Linked DNA regions of Homo sapiens: all the other regions are linked to region 2. Evidence: fine-mapped expression QTL. A gene starts in region 2. Each other region holds a variant in brackets. All regions are shown on one strand. Distances are from middle to middle. Region 1 overlaps EEPD1 (endonuclease/exonuclease/phosphatase family domain containing 1). Region 2 holds the start of EEPD1 (endonuclease/exonuclease/phosphatase family domain containing 1). Region 3 overlaps EEPD1 (endonuclease/exonuclease/phosphatase family domain containing 1).

Region 1 (5,222 bases), 93 kb before region 2:
AATATTGATCACTCAAGGTGGTATTCAAATTCAGCTCTGACTACATGAAGGGCTAAGTGTGGCGGGGGTGGGGGAAAATAAATAAGGGATCTGAAGAATCTCATTCTGATATTTTTGAAATAACACAGTGTTTTTTTGGAAAAAAAAAAAAAAAAAAAGAGTATCTGGCCGAGGGTGGTGGCTCATGCCTGTAATCCCAGCACTTTGGGAGGCCGAGGTGGGCAGATTACTTGAGGCCAGGAGTTTGAGACCAGCCTGGGAAATGCAGTGAAACCAACTCTCTACTAAAAATAGAAAAAATTAGCTGGGTGTGGTGGTGCAAGCCTGTAATTCCAGCTAGTCGGGAGGCTGAGGGGGGTAAAATCGCTTGAGCTCAGGAGGTGGAGGTTGCAATGAGCTGAGATTGCACCACTGCACTCCAGCCTGGGGGACAGAGTGAGACTCTGTCTCAAAAAAAAAAAAAGTATCTTAAAGTATATATATTTTTATAAGTTAAGATTCTTGAAGTAATTCATTTGGACACCAAGCCCAAATGAAAGGTGTGTCCAGTCCACGTCCTCCAACCTCTCACGTGTCCTCATGGCTCCCATAACCTGCTAGGTGGATGGTCTCTAGGCAGCCCTCACACCCTGTGTGTTCCTTCACTTTTAGGTGCTCCTTTGACATTGTCCACATCTGGAACCCAGAACCTCCTTCTGCGTCCTCTATCCCCCATCCCACATTCTCTGCCTCTCCTGCTGGAGGAGGCTAACACCAACTGTGCAAGTCTGTTTTGCTACAAGTCACACTATGAGAAGATCTGGGCATTGGTTCCCCATCACCTGGGCCAGGACTGATCCTATGGACCTGCTCCCACTCCTGGGAAATGCGGAGATAGGATCGTCCAGTATGCCTGCTAAGGCTGATGTTCAGATTAAATGAGATCACAGAAGATGGGCAGCTGGTTGCACTTAAAGGAGCTGGGAAATGGAGCCCAGTCTGCTGTGATGGGTCCTGGATTACCAACACACCTGCTGTGGACCTGGGGCAGAGGGCACTTCAACTCCCTTGGCCTCAATGTCCTGTCTGCAAAATGACAGGGTTGGATTAGATGGTTTTAAAAGTCTCCCTTGATTCTGAAGTTCTGGGATTCTATGCCATTCAAATGTAAATGTATCTTTATAATCACATGTATCTTTATAACTTTATCCCCGTTGGTAAACAGTATAATTTTGGCACTGAGCAAGCACTCAATTGTTGCAGAAACTAAGTTAATTGCAAGTCCAAATCATAGTGAATAACACTCCAAAAGCACGTAATAAGAGAGGTAGTGTTTATGGATGTACATGTGTGTATATTCAGAAAACACCCTCACCAATTACAGACACAAGCACTTTGCATCCTTAGGTTATTCACACACATCTATGTGAAAATGGCTTATCATCCTCTTTCCTTCTGAAAATTCCCAGGAAGCTATCATTCTAACGTTGCCCACCACTAGGGTTTGCCTGGAAACTCCCTGACTAATCTGTCAAGTTCAATTTTTTTCTTTTCTTTTTTTTTTTTTTTTTGAGATGGAGTCTCACTCTGTCACCCAGGCTGTAGTGCAATGGTGCGATCTCAGCTCACTGCAACCTCTGCCTCCCAGGATCAAGCAATTCTGCCTCAGCCTCCCGAGTAGCTGGAATTACAGGTGTGTGCCACCACGCCTGGCTAATTTTTGTATTTTTGGTAGAGATGGGGTTTCACCATATCGGCCAGGCTGGTCTCGAACTCCTGACCTCAGGCGATCCACCCGCCTTGGCCTCCCAAAGTGCTGGGATTACAGGCGTGAGACACTGCGCCCAGCCCAAGTTCAATTTTTCTAGTCCCAAGCTTGCTGATGAAATGCACATACTCTGTCACACATGTAAAGCACTCTAAGACATCTTAGAGGTCTGCTCCATCTTCAGGAAAACTAGAATAGGAGTTGGGCTCCAAAGCTGAAATTCTAAAAAAAAAACACCTATCAGCAGGGAGGACTGACAGGCATCTTTTCCTAGACAATTTGGCAAAAGGAGCAGTGGGGATGCAACTTCTTTCACATCTTTTAATGGCAACAGATCGATCTCAAGTTGGGCTTCTCCAGAGAGAAGTAAGGACGAGATGCCAGTGATGATGATGATGACGACCACAGCAGCAGCTAATTAGCAGTAGAGGGGATAGTACCAGCTACTGCCACTTTGGTGCTTACGATATACATAACGGCTTTTATTTCACACATCTCACTTAGTTCTCATAACAATATCCTAATAGGATAGGTATTATTCTGAAGCTCCATGTTAAAAAGAAACAGAGGCTAGCCAGTACCTGGCCTCCTATGTCCCCCAGCTGGCAAATGGCAGGGCTGGCTTCAACCCCCACCACTGCCCTCACAGCATGAACTCAGTGGACTTGTAATTATAACAGAGTCATGATCTGGGAGCGGCAGCACTGGCAAGGCCACCAGGTGGGTGGCCTGTGTCTCCTGAGGGCCCAGCTCACACAGGCAGCTTCTCAGGCAGGCACTGGTCTCAGGTTGGGTCAGCCAGTGGTCCGCCCTCTGGTCCTACCACGGTCCAGCTGGAATGACCGGCCAAACTATTGTTTGTGGCTTTGCAGGAAGCCATTTGAAAGGGTCATTGAAAAATGATCTTTCTAAATCAAGCTGTACCAATATTTTTATTTCCTTTTATGAAATGCCACTTTTAAAGGCTTTAGATGGGCCTGTGTTTAAAGCCTGGGAAACAAGT[A/C]CCTGTGACTTAAGTTCAGAAAAACAGAAGTGTCCCACTCTCAGAGCAAAAACAACAGAGAACTGCATGACATGTATCCTTCTTACAGCAAGTTCTTGCTCTTGGGACCTAATGGATGTTTGACAAAAAAAGCACATCTAAATCCAAAACACTTTTTCAGACCAATGTCACATGCACTGACACTCACACATCTTAGATCATCTGCTCATGGTTCTAACCATTTTTCAAAAGAAGAAATTGGTTGAAGAATTTAGATTGTTAATTGTATGGTTTATAACATTTTAAAAATAAGTGACAAGTCACTTTTACTAGTCTGGGAACTGGCTCTGTGTAGCGTTAGGAGAGAAGAGAAACTCAGAAGCCTGATCCCACAAGGGGCCCCCACCTCCTACCCAATCTACTGCACCTAAATGAAGACAAAGAATAAGAGGCAAAAACTAGAACCCTACTGATTTATGCCTTGGGGGTCTCTGTGTATCTATGTACTGGGCTTGTGTTCACCATTCACCTCTTCCCAGAACACGTGATTTGATGGTAAGTAGGGCAGGTGAAACAGGAAAGCCCCCAAACACAGTAAGGACCACTGGAGCAAGGAAGTGGAGAAAATACGAGAAAACTGAGTACACAAGGGCAAAATGTCCCCCTCTTCACAATGTGATCAAGAATCAACTCTGTGGCCAGGCGCGGTAGCTCATGTCTGTAATCCCAGCACTTTGGGAGACCAAGGTGGGTGGATGACCTGAGGCCCGGAGATCAAGACCAGCCTGGCCAACATGGTGAGATCCCATCTCTAATAAAAATACAAAAAAATTAGCTGGGCATGGTGGCAGGCACCTGTAATCCCAGCTACTCAGGAGGCTGAGGCAGGAGAATTGCTTGCACCTGGGAGGTGAAGGTTGCAGTGAGCCGAGATCATACTACTGCACTCTAGCTTGGGCAACAGAGCGAGACTCCATCTCAAAAAAAACAACAAAAAAAAAACATTAGCCGGGCATAATGGCAGACACCTATAATCCCAGCTACTCAGGAGGCTGAGGCAGGAGAATTGCTCGAACTCAGGATGCGGAGGTTGCAGTGAGCCGAGATCACACCATTGCACTCCAGCCTGGGCAACAGGGCAAGACTCCGTCTCCAAAAAAAAAAAAAAAAAAAAAATCAACTCTGAAAAATGAAGCCCAGGTATCGAAGAGTGGGAAGGAATCACAGAGAGCAGTTTCACAGGCTAGGAAAGGGGCTGGGGCCTTCAGGGAAGATCCTCTGCCAGACACAGCAGCTCAGCAGAGGCCACACCGGGAGGAGAACTCGGCTCTGCCAATTGGGAACCTCCTCAGAGCTGGCTCTGGGCTCTGCAGAAAACAGGAAAACCTTGGCACGTCTAAAAATGGGAAGGCTGTCTACCTAAAACCAAGTAATGTTTAGGCAAATGGCTGGTCATTTTAAGTTAAAATACTAAGATCCTAATAACAAGGCCTAATATTAGCAAGAAAAAGCACTTATTTTCTATGAGACCTTAAAAGACTACTACTTCTTTTTAGCTTTTTATATTAGGTTTTACATAATTTAAATCTTTTATTGTTCAAATTTAATCTACCAGTACTTGTGAAGGAAATGGCCCCTTTAGAATAGCTTCCATCTTAAAAGAGGAGGCCTGTGCAGGTCCCCACTGTTGGGACTGTCTGGCTAGAAGCGACCAGTTCTATCATAGCAGGGTGTTGGGAGTTCAGTGATTACAAAACTCAAAGGCAGGTTGTCATTTGAAGCTCAGCTGCATGACAGTAAAAGAGGTTTGAGGTTTGCAGAATGTGTGTCTAACTAAGCCCTTTTTTGCTGGCTCTACCTATTGAATTAAGACTATTTTCTTTTTTTTTAATTATTATTATACTTTAAGTTTTAGGGTACATGTGCACAATGTGCAGGTTAGTTACATATGTATACATGTGCCATGCTGGTGTGCTGCACCCATTAACTCGTCATTTAGCATTAGGTATATCTTCTAATGCTATCCCTCCCCCCTCCCCCTACCCCACAACAGTCCCCAGAGTGTGATGTTCCCCTTCCTGTGTCCATGTGTTCTCATTGTTCAATTCCCATCTATGAGTGAGAACATGCGGTGTTTGGTTTTTTGTCCTTGCGATAGTTTACTGAGAATGATGATTTCCAATTTCATCCATGTCCCTACAAAGGACATGAACTCACATTAGGTTTTACATAATTTAAATATTTTATTGTTCAAATTTAATCCACCAGTACTTGTGAAGGAAATGGCCCCTTTAGAATAGCTTCCATCTTAAAAGAGGAGGCCTGTGCAGGTCCCCACTGTTGGGACTGTCTGGCTAGAAGCGACCAGTTCTATCACAGCAGGGTGTTGGGAGTTCAGTGATTACAAAACTCAAAGGCCGGTTGTCATTTGAAGCTCAGCTGCATGACAGTAAAAGAGGTTTGAGGTTTGCAGAATGTGTGTCTAACTAAGCC
Region 2 (5,222 bases):
CATGGGTCACAAGCCCAGCTGTATTCAGAAAATTCTGGAGCAGAAGGACAGCCCATTCTCAGGTGACGGTATTGGCTGAGGCTTCAAGAACATTGATTAAAAACTCTTGCACCCTCCCTACCCGCAAAAGAATCCATTCATTTGCATCCATAGATGAGGTCACGCACAAGTTGCCTTCACACCCAACACCCATGGTGGTTCCTGTCCTCACCTGTTTTCCAGGAGTGTCATGCACACCACCTCTCGCACCCCGGGGTTGTTGGCCTTCTCCACGGAACAGCCCTGCAAGTTCCAGGTGGCCAGCCTCAGCACAGGCCTCCCATCCCTTGTGCCTCCAAAGGCCTCCACGGACGGCCGAGTGGAGATAATCTGGGTGGGCCCCCCTGGCGGCAGGTCCAGGTCCTCACTCTGCAGGCTCAGGGAAGTGGGGCTCGGGTGAGGCTTGGCGGTGAAGGTCAGTCCCCCGTTCGTGTGGGTGGATGGGGGCCTGGACCTCTCAGCAAACACCTGGTGCCGGATCCTGTCCAGGAAGGCGGCATTGATACCATCCATCCTCACTAGGTCCTCAACGCTGCGAAAGGGCCCATGCTCACGGCGGAAGTCCACGATGCTGAGGGCCATTTTCTCCGAGAGGCCTCGCACGCTCATGAGCTGGGCCGGGGTGGCTGTGTTGATGTTAACACGTGGGGTGAGGGGCACAGCTGTGGCCAGGTGGTGAGGCTGCTGCTCCGCTAGCAGGTCCCGCCGCAGGGAACTGGGAGAGTGCTGCGCTGAGCTGCCCTTGCTGCTCACACAGATCTCAAACTTGACCTGCTCCAGCTTGGTGGCGCCTACACCACTGACCAATGCCAGGTCCTCCACCTTCTTGAAGCCACCGATATACTCTCGGTACTCCACGATGCTGCGTGCCACGGCACGCGTCACCCCAGGCAGGGTCATCAGCTCCTCCTCCGTGGCAGTGTTGATGTTGAGCCGCTCCTGATTCACTAGAATGTTGCTGAAGTTACAGGCTGCGCTGAACTTGCGGCTATGGGACAGGTCCGAGGGGTCCCTGGGGATGGAGCGGTGGCAGCCCAGGGTGCTCCCCATGGTCCGCCAGGATCAGGCTCCCGGGAAGGCCGCACCACTGCAGAAGAGCTCTCTGGCTAGGGAGGAAGCCCAGTAGGCCGTACAAGCACAGAAAAACGGAAGGTGCAGGATTCAGGGACTGAAGAGGTTACTATAGACAAACACCGAATCTTCCATGCCTGGCGTGTCCAAAATTACCTTTCACTTGGCCGCCTAGAAAATAAATCAATAAACATAGAAACCCATTGAATTAAGAAATTTGCATTAGCACCCCCTACCTAGTGCTAGAGTTAGTAACCAGGAGTCGGGGACTGGTGGCTGCCCGTGAACCCCTAAAAACGCAGGCACAATGAGGCTAGGCCCATGTGGATTCTCCTCTAGGGACGTCCGGGTTTTATCACACTGGAGTCCAAAAAGGCTACGAGCCGCTTCTCTTGGGAAGAGACCTATCCCCATCAGCCTCATGCCTCTCCTCCAGGCCTCTCTCAACTCTGACACTTGGGTCACCCACACTTGGGCTCGCGCAGACGGGGTGGCCACTCCACCTCCCCCACGCTCCGCATCTGACACAGCGCTACCTGCAACCTGGGAAGTCCGTGCTCCCCGGAGCGGGCACTGAGAAGGGGCTTATCGACCCCCCACCCGACCTGCCGCGGGTCCCCGCGCCCCACCTCTCGGCCGCTCTGCGGGGCGCCGGTTCCTCTTCCACCTGCGGCTCGGAAGCCTGAGCCCAGCCCGGGACAGCACGGGCCCCCTGCCTCCAGCCTAGGCGTCCGCGCGGGTGTGGGTCACTGGTCAGGCCCTGGAAGCCGACTACGCCGCTTCGGTCTGCGTGTCCCGGCTCTTTCTATGGGAGAAACTTAGCATCGCTCTCCCAGAGTGAATAGAAGCCGCAGGGCTGCTCGGAGGCGGCGGCAGCGGCGGCGAAACCCGCCGCCGAGGCTGCACCGGGGCTTGCGGCGGCGCCGCCGCAGTTGCGTTTACCCCGGCAAAAAGTCCTGCGCCCAACTCGGGCGGGGATCCGCCAGAGCCAGTCCAGACCCAGCACCAGCCGCACGGCTCCCGCTCGCAGTCGGTGTCAAAGCCAAAGTCCCGGCCGCGCCGCGCCGCGCCGCTCGCGCCTCCGCAGGCACCGCGGCCACGCCTCCTCCGCGCGGCAACTCCTCCCCGGGACTCCCGAGGGCACGTGGGGGAGGGGCCCTGGCGCGGGGCGAGGCCTGGCACCAGTGGGTGGAGAGAGGAACCCGAGAGCGCAAGGGCGGGCCTGGAGTGGGAGAGGCGGGGCCATGGAAGAGGGGGCGGCATCAAGGCTCAAGAGGGTGGAGAACGAACCAGAGAGCGCGAGGGGAGGCCCTGGCGTGCGAGAGGAGGAGCCATGGGTGTGGGGGCGTGGCCTGGCACAAATGGGTGGAGAGCAGAACCCTGGAGCGCGTGGGGCGGGCCTGGAGTGCGAGAGGCGGGGTCATAGAGTGTGGGAGCGGGGCCAGGGCGCGATGGGGTAGGAAAAGCGGGGGCGGGGCCATGAGCGCGGGGGTAGGCCCCGGGAGCGCAGAGGCGGGACTTAGGGGGCTTAAGGGGCGGAGCCGGCGCCGTGCCGGCGAGGGCGGGTCACAGGGAGGCTGTCCTAAGTCAGCTGCCCCCGGACCATGGTTGCCGCCCGGGGCCTAGGACTGGTTGTGCCTGGTAGAGGCTGTTTAGGATTGCCCGAGGCGAGATCTGCTCAGCTGCTTTTCGTCTGTCTTTGAGGTGTGGGGATGAAGGCCGGGGCAGTCCCTGAGAGTGCATCGCTGTAGGTCCAGGGTCTCACGGAATTTTGCAGAACGTTCCAGAGGAGACTGAATGGGATCGTCTTAATTTCTGTCCCCACTTTCGGCCTTTTCTTTTCTTCCACCAGTGTATTACCTTTGCTCCGCTCAGAGAGATGTCCTCTAATAACGCCAGCGACGCATTGTGCTCCTAGCAGAGGGCACGCACCACCCTCCTGTGTGTTCGCATAGGTCAAATACAGGTTTGCTCCTTTGCACATTTAGCGCTGTGAGTAAACAAGGATAAGTTTTTGTAATATTAAGTCTAATCATTACGAAGGAGGGAAATGGGGGCTGCTTCCCAAAACCCAGAAGAGTTTTTGCATCACACTGCTAAATGACAATTTGGTTAAAGATTAAAGAGCCCTCTGCATTATAGTGGATACCTAGAGCTAGAGTATTCGATTAAGCAAATCATGCGGTGATATCGTTGAATACTTTGACCCTGGACGTTTAGTGTTCTCTGAAGTTTCATCCCCAACCAATGTGACCAGTGCATCTGGTTTCAATTCCAAGGACTGGGTCAGCAAAAATAGTACCTCTCACAGGCGGAAGGTACTTTGGTTGTAAAATTAGCGGCAGCCCAAGTTTGGAAAATGCTACTGCCTTTCTGAGGCACATTCCCCTGCTATGTATATTGGTCAGAAAACCAAGTCAAACTAGCTTAGACCAAAAAAAAAAAAAAAAAGGTCGGGGGGAAATTTTTGGTTCCTTGTTGAAAAGTTAAGGTAAGGAATCTTACCTCAAGTCTGGTTGCATCCGACCCAAGTGATGATGGGGTCATTAGGACATGGCAGGACTGCCTCCATCTCTGGCTCCACGGTTCTCTTTATTGGCTTTATTTTTAGGCAAGCTATTTGCACTTGATCGCAAAAATGCCTTGCTACCTACCATCATCTCCCACCCAAACACTGGGCTACATTATGCCACGCACTGAAATCCTGGTGCGGTAAGGAAAAAACAGTTTAAGACAAGCAGGAAAACAGAGAAAACTCTTCGTTGAGCAGAATGCCTTGATGCGCAACGTGGCTGTGGAAGCACAGCCGTGGAGCGTGGCTACTTGGGCTGGAAGCAGAGAAAACATATTTTATCATACAAACCAGGACACTCTGGAGGTGAAGAGAGGACTCTATTAATAATATCCTAGAACAACAGAAATAATCTGGTTTTATTCCCCATAAACCTAGCAAATGCTCCCCTTGGTATAAATGAAACCAAGCGTTGGCCAAACCAAAGTGCATTTAAAAACACACATACATACACCCCACAAAAACATGCAATGAGATGGTTAACTTTAAAACGACTGATTGTATCCAATGTTGGTGAGGACGCAGAGCAATTGAAATGGTCATACATTGCTGGTGGAGGTGTAAGATGGCACCACTACTTTGGAAATCAGTTTGGAAGTTTCCTAAGAAGTTAAACGTATACTTACCATATGACTCAACCAATCTACTTATAGGTATTTACCAAAGAAAAAGGAAAACATGAAACCCAGAGACTTGAATGTGGATGTTCATAGGAGCTTTGTTTGTTATAGCCAAACACACACACACACACACACCCACACACACACACACACACACACACACACACAAAGCAAAACAACAAGAAACTCAAATCCATCAGTGGATGAATGAATAAATTGTAGTATATCCATACAATGGAATGCTACTGAGCAATAAAGACAAACTATTACATGACATTGAAAAGTCTCAAAATCGTTATACTGAGTGAAAGAAGCAAGGCAAAAAAGAACATACTGTATGATTCTATTTATATAAAACACCAGAAAATACAAACTGACATACATATAGAGAAAGCAGATCAGTGGTTACCTGGGGATGATGGGGAGGGAGGAATGGATTTTAAAGGGCACAAAGAAACTTTGGGGGCTGATGGCAATGTAGTTTGAGAGGTGATAGTTTCATGGGCATATGAATGTCAAAACTGACAGAATCGTATACTTTAAATATGTGCATTTGGGTGTACTTCAGTGACAACAGCTTTGGAAAAATCTTCAAAAAATGAAAAAAAATTTTCTCTGAATCTAAAAAAACATAGGCCTTGTTTTTGGGGAGAGTGGGGTACGTGAGCCTGGGTGGAGATGAAAAGGTTTAGGAGGGGGATGAAGGGGTCCAAGAAGTTGAACAGACAGCTAATAGAAGAGAACATTCCCCAGCTTGGCTTGGGGGCTCAGGAAAGTGGGCGACAGAGGCCTTTAAACTTACGGCTAACAGTCTATTTTATCTGCTGTGCTATTTCATGATGCAATCCTCCCACCCCTACCCCATGCACAGACACTAAATTTTGTAAGATATGTATGTAATGGCCATCAATAAGTTATGT
Region 3 (5,222 bases), 140 kb before region 2:
CTGGGCATAGTGGTGGGCGCCTGTAATCCCAGTTACTTGGGAGGCTGAGGCAGGAGAATCGCTTGAACCCGGGAGACAGAGGTTGCAGTGAGCCAACATGGCTCCACTGCACTCCAGCCTCGGCTAGAGTGAGACTCTGTCAAAGAAGAAAAGAAAGAAGAGAAAGAGAAAGAGAAAAAGAGAGAGAAAGAGAGAGAGAGAGAAAGACAAGGAGGGAGGGAGGGAGAGACAGAGAGAGAGAAAGAAAAAGAGAGAAAAAGAAAGAAAAGAAAGAAAGAAAAGAAAAGAAAACAAAACAAAAGAAAAGAAAAGAAAAAAGAAAGAAAGAAAACAGTGGTTCTCGGCCCCGGTTCTAAGAGAAAACAGCTGGATGACTCTGAGTGTGGAATTTGAAGTTTGTCACTTCCCAGCTTCGTGACCTTGGGCAAGCCTTTTAGTCTATAAAAGGGAAAGAACAAGCCATTTCCTCCCAGGTTGGTGTCAGGATTAGAGGAGCCGCCAGAAGCGCCTGGCACGGGGCACTCACATGTAGCGTGGGCCCCCTTCCTGATCAGTTTCCTGATACAGCTTCACAGGTTTGTCAGGGAGAGACACACAGTGGAAGTTAAATATGTGTGCATAAGAACTACAAAGTGATTTCAGGGCCAAGGGGGAAAGGTTTTCTCCTAAAGCATTTTAGACATTTCTCCCACAGTCTGATTTACCCTAGAGGAAGTGGGATAGTTATGAAGTATTTTCCAAGCAAAGCGAGTAGAAATCCTGAAAGAACACTCGCCCCCCAGCTGGGCTCTGCGGGATTCCCCTGGGCTCTGCTTGACCCTTGTTGTCCCACAGCAGGAGGTGGCATTTCTGCCACACCTTGTGAAGGAGGCTTTAGGGAAAGCAGTTCATAAACGAAGTCATAAATGTATCCACGACACTTGGCAAATCTTTTTTTCCTGGCCACGGGTGTGCTTCCGTAATAACAACTGCAGGGAAAGGAATCTGAAGGGAAGCCACTCAGGCCACCACCAGAGGGCGCATGTGCATTGCAGATGGCGCCCTCCTCTAGGAGGAGTGAGGACAATGGGTGGGATGGAAGGAAGCCTCTCCTGCAGGGCCACCCACACCATGGAGAAATCAGTGCCAGCTTGAATAATAGTCATGGCACTGTGCTGACCACTTCCTCGATAGCACCGCACTTAACAGCCACGACCCATGGGGCAGGTGCTGTTACCATCTCCCTTCTGCAGGTACGAAACAGGCTCCCAGAGGTGGGAAGGTTTGTCCAAAGTCACCAGGCCAGGCCTCAAATCCAGGGCTCACCACAAAGGGCTAGGATGGAAGACCACACGGAAGTGGCTGCTGTCCACTGCGACACCAAGTGCATCAGCAGGCACTCAATAAATATGTGAGCAACAGACAAGCGGAACCACAAATGTCCCAGAATTAGGGTGCAGTTTGATTTGGAAAGGAACAAAGAGAAAGATGCTACATTCATTGAATATCAAAGAAAACAAAGTTCCCATATAATGAGGGAGGTTTTCGTTGGGATGCAGGCCTGCAAAGGTCTGGGCTGAAAAAGACAATTCTAAAGCCAGGAGAGACGCTGGTGTCAAGGGTCAATAGAGCCAGCTCTGTGTAGCTTCAGGAGTGACAACGGTTCCCTTTTTGAATGAGCACATCGGATTTCTTACAACTCATGTTCTTCCGATTGAATCCGCGTCGGTGATGACATCAAGGCAGTTGTTGCTTCTGAGAATCCACAGGTAGATGCGCAGGAGCCTGAGTTATCTTCCTAAAAAGCCACCCACCTGGGCTGGGCTCCTTTGTCGCTCCCTTGATTCCCAGCAGTGAGGGGAGAACGTTTTGGGCTGACTTCCTCAGAGAGTCTCTAGATTTATAAAACGCCAATGACAACTACAGGAACCAGTCCCCACTGAGGGACCATCTGCCAAGATGTCAAGAGTTACTACACACCCTGTTTCACTCTTGCTCAGTTCACAGAGGGAGACCCTGTCCCCAAGTCCTGGTGAGGTCTGAGGGAAGAAGGTTCCACTAGGGGACTGGCATATCCCCACTGACGTCAGCCTGCATGCACGTTCCAGACAAAGGCAGAAAGGCCCGGAGCTTGCTAACCACATCGGTTCTGTTTGCTCTGATAGAAGCTGTGGAATGAAGGCTTTGTCTTTGCTTTAGCTGAACCCCTCTGCTGACTTGTCTACCCTTGTTAGACCTGGGCAGGCTGAATTGCTTCCTGAACCCCTGGGTCTGGAGTGTCACCAGTTAATAATTAATTGGGTACTAGTTACAAG[C/G]AGGGGACACAGGCAGCATGAGTCATTGTCCCTACTTGGATGAGTCAAGGCCAAGCCAGGCTGTGGGTCAATAGTACCTTGGCAATTTGGAACATAACCTGCCCAAGGTTTTCTGCCAAAATCCTGACTACTCCCTGGATACCAGGGGTGGGGTGGGGGGATGGTGACTGCCTAAGGCTGTCAAAGAAGTTATGAGCTGGCATCTTTCCTTTCTGCTTCCACAAAAAGTTTGAGATCAAGAACAATAGTAATGTCCACAGATGTGACAAGCTATCAAGTTGTCCATTTTACAGATCAGAGTCTAACTATAGGTGGACAATTTCCCACACAGTTGCTTCTTGGATAGAGCATCTTCTGACTGTTTTTAGCCTGAGGACTCATCCTTAAAGTAGAACGTTGGTCACGGCATGTCCTGGTTCAAAAGAAAAGCTGCTGCACATCAATCTTCACAGCAGCGTTGTCACAACAGGACAAAGGTGGAAGCTACCCAAGTGTCTATCAGAAGATGAATGGATAAGCAACAAACTATGGTGGATGGATGCACAGTGGGATATTACTTAGCCTCAAAAAGTGAGGAAATTCTGGCCAGGCGCTGTGGCTCACGCCTGTAATCCCAGCACTTTGGGAGGCCGAGGCGGGCAGATCACGAGGTCAGGAGATTGAGACCATCCTGGCTAACACGGTGAAACCCCGTCTCTACTAAAAATACAAAAAATTAGCCAGGCGCGGTGGCGGGCGCCTATAGTCCCAGCTACTCGGGAGGCTGAGGCAGGAGAATGGCGTGAACCCGGGAGGCGGAGCTTGCAGTGAGCCGAGATCGTGCCTCTGCACTCCAGCCTGGGCGACACACACACACAAAAAAGTGAGGAAATTCTGACACATGCTACAACATGGATGAACCTTGAAGACATTATACTAAGTGAAACAAGCCAGACACAAAAGGACAAATATTATCATTCTACTTATTTGGGGCACCTAGAGTAGTCACAATCACAGAGACAGAAGGTAGAATGCTGGTTGCCAAGGGCTGCAGGGAGGGGCGCATGGGGAGATATCGTTGAATGGGTACCGAGCTTCAGTTTGGAAAGATGAAAAGGTTCTGGAGACGGATGGTGGTAATGTTTGTACAACAATGTCAATACATTAGTAGCACTGACTTGAATATGTAAAATGATTAAAATGGTAAATTTTATGTTACATATATTTTACCACAGTAAAAAATCTTTTTTGTTAGAAATGCAAATTCAAATACATATATACATATATACATACATACATCTTTTGAAATGTGAGCCTACAGTTTGACTGAAATATTTTTGTAGTAAAATCTTCATGAATCTCCCAATTTGAGGGGCCAGTTTAACGAGGAAGTCTTAGAAAGCTAGAGAATATTGGTCCAGACTCAAAAGATAGAAGAGAATTCCAAGCCTCCAACTACAAACTCACCTAGACAAGGTCAGTGTTCTGAAAAATCAAGCCAGATGGATAAGATCACAGTCTTCACAGCCTTGTCAACCTTTTCTTTTGGTAAACCAAGTGCAGAAAACCATCTATATTAGTTGGGGCATAGCCCCCCTTTGTCCTGGAGTTCAGCTCCTTTTTTTTTTTTTTTTAAGAGATGGGGTCTTGCTGTGTTGCCCAGACTGGAGTACAGTGGTGCGATCAAAGCTCACTGCAGCCTCGACTTCCTGGGCTCAAGTGATTCTCCCTCCTCAACCTCCTGAATATCTGGGACTACTGGTGTGTACCACCATGCCCGGCTAATTTTTTTCGTTCTTTGTAGAGACAGGGTCTCACTATGTTGCCCAAGCTGCTCTTGAACTCCTGGGCTCAAGTGATCCTCCCGCCTTGGCCTCCCAAAGTGCTGAGATTACAGGCATGAGCTACCGTGCCTAGCTAGAATTCTGCTCTTTTCAGTGTTCTCTTAATTCTTCTCATGTTTTAGAGTCAACTCGTGTACATGAAGTCCCTACTATGTGCTTGGTATTGCTGCAGACACTGTTACTTAGCCCTCTGGGTACTGCTATGAGATGAGTACTGTCCCCCATCAGATGGGGGCCTGAAGTGGTTTGGTGGCTTGCCTGAGGTCCTACAAGATTAAAATCCAGCATTTCTGACAGGTTCAGGGCTTCTTCAACATGCTCTGTATCCCGCCAGAGAGAAAAACTCAATTCACCAATCATCAGCAATTTACCACTTCCCCTTGTCACCCCCGTCTCTCTTTCACAGGAAGAGCACATGCAAATCTGCAGGCGGCACCACCGGAGTGATGCCCGAGGCAGCTGGTCCCAGGATGAGCTGTCTTCGGGGAAGGGCATCATCACTTATATTCTTCCCCCCTAATCCTTTCTATCTAAATGAGGCTAAAAAGCCACAGAGCTGACAGCTTGGAACGCATATGCTAGGTCCACAGAGGCACAGATGTGGCCGTGCAGGGTCAGCTGGGCTCCATGAGATGCCAGAGGTTTGACTGTCCCCTGTACCCGCGACTCACATTGCTGACAAACAGCCAGCCCAAGTGGTCAGAGATGGCTCAGAAGAGGCAGCCCTGCTGCTCTGCAAAACAGTGGCCGAGTCACAGCAAAAGACAATGTCCTACCTTTCAGGGTTTCCTGTAGGGTCTGTGCAAAGCTCGCCAACCGGTGGCCATCACTGTGATTCTTGCTGGGATTCTCGCTCCCCAGGAGGGTCAGGGCTGCCAGGTGAAGGTTAACAAGGGTCAGGTCGTGACTTCCCACCTAGGCAGCAGGAAACAAAGCAACAGGGAGAGGCTCAGAAGCTCATATTTCCTGTATCCGTTACAACCGACTCATAAATAGCTTTGTGCACAGAGTTGACAATGGTAAACAAGAACAAGGCTGGCTCACACCCCCAGGAAATAATGTAAGGTCTTTCATCTTCGATTTTTCCAAGGCACCTGCAGGAACA

The links.
Region 1: its variant is fine-mapped to the expression of EEPD1 in tibial artery (GTEx, PIP above 0.99).
Region 3: its variant is fine-mapped to the expression of EEPD1 in pancreas (GTEx, PIP 0.97).

What each region holds. Positions count from the first base shown.
Region 1 is chr7:36,243,451-36,248,672 of GRCh38, reverse strand. All of the region lies in intron 3 of EEPD1 (endonuclease/exonuclease/phosphatase family domain containing 1), which reads right to left. Among named protein-coding and RNA genes, the nearest start is that of EEPD1, 93 kb to the right of the region's middle. RefSeq lists an enhancer at 1,977-2,479. The variant A/C (reference allele first, on the strand shown) is at 2,751.
Region 2 is chr7:36,150,192-36,155,413 of GRCh38, reverse strand. EEPD1 (endonuclease/exonuclease/phosphatase family domain containing 1) reads right to left here and starts at 2,160. Exons shown (of 8, transcript NM_030636.3): 1 at 1,740-2,160; 2 at 212-1,281. The coding sequence starts at 1,089. RefSeq lists a silencer at 2,029-2,748.
Region 3 is chr7:36,287,449-36,292,670 of GRCh38, reverse strand. It overlaps EEPD1 (endonuclease/exonuclease/phosphatase family domain containing 1), which reads right to left. Exons shown (of 8, transcript NM_030636.3): 6 at 4,894-5,032. Among named protein-coding and RNA genes, the nearest start is that of MATCAP2, 77 kb to the left of the region's middle. RefSeq lists a silencer at 337-631. The variant C/G (reference allele first, on the strand shown) is at 2,295.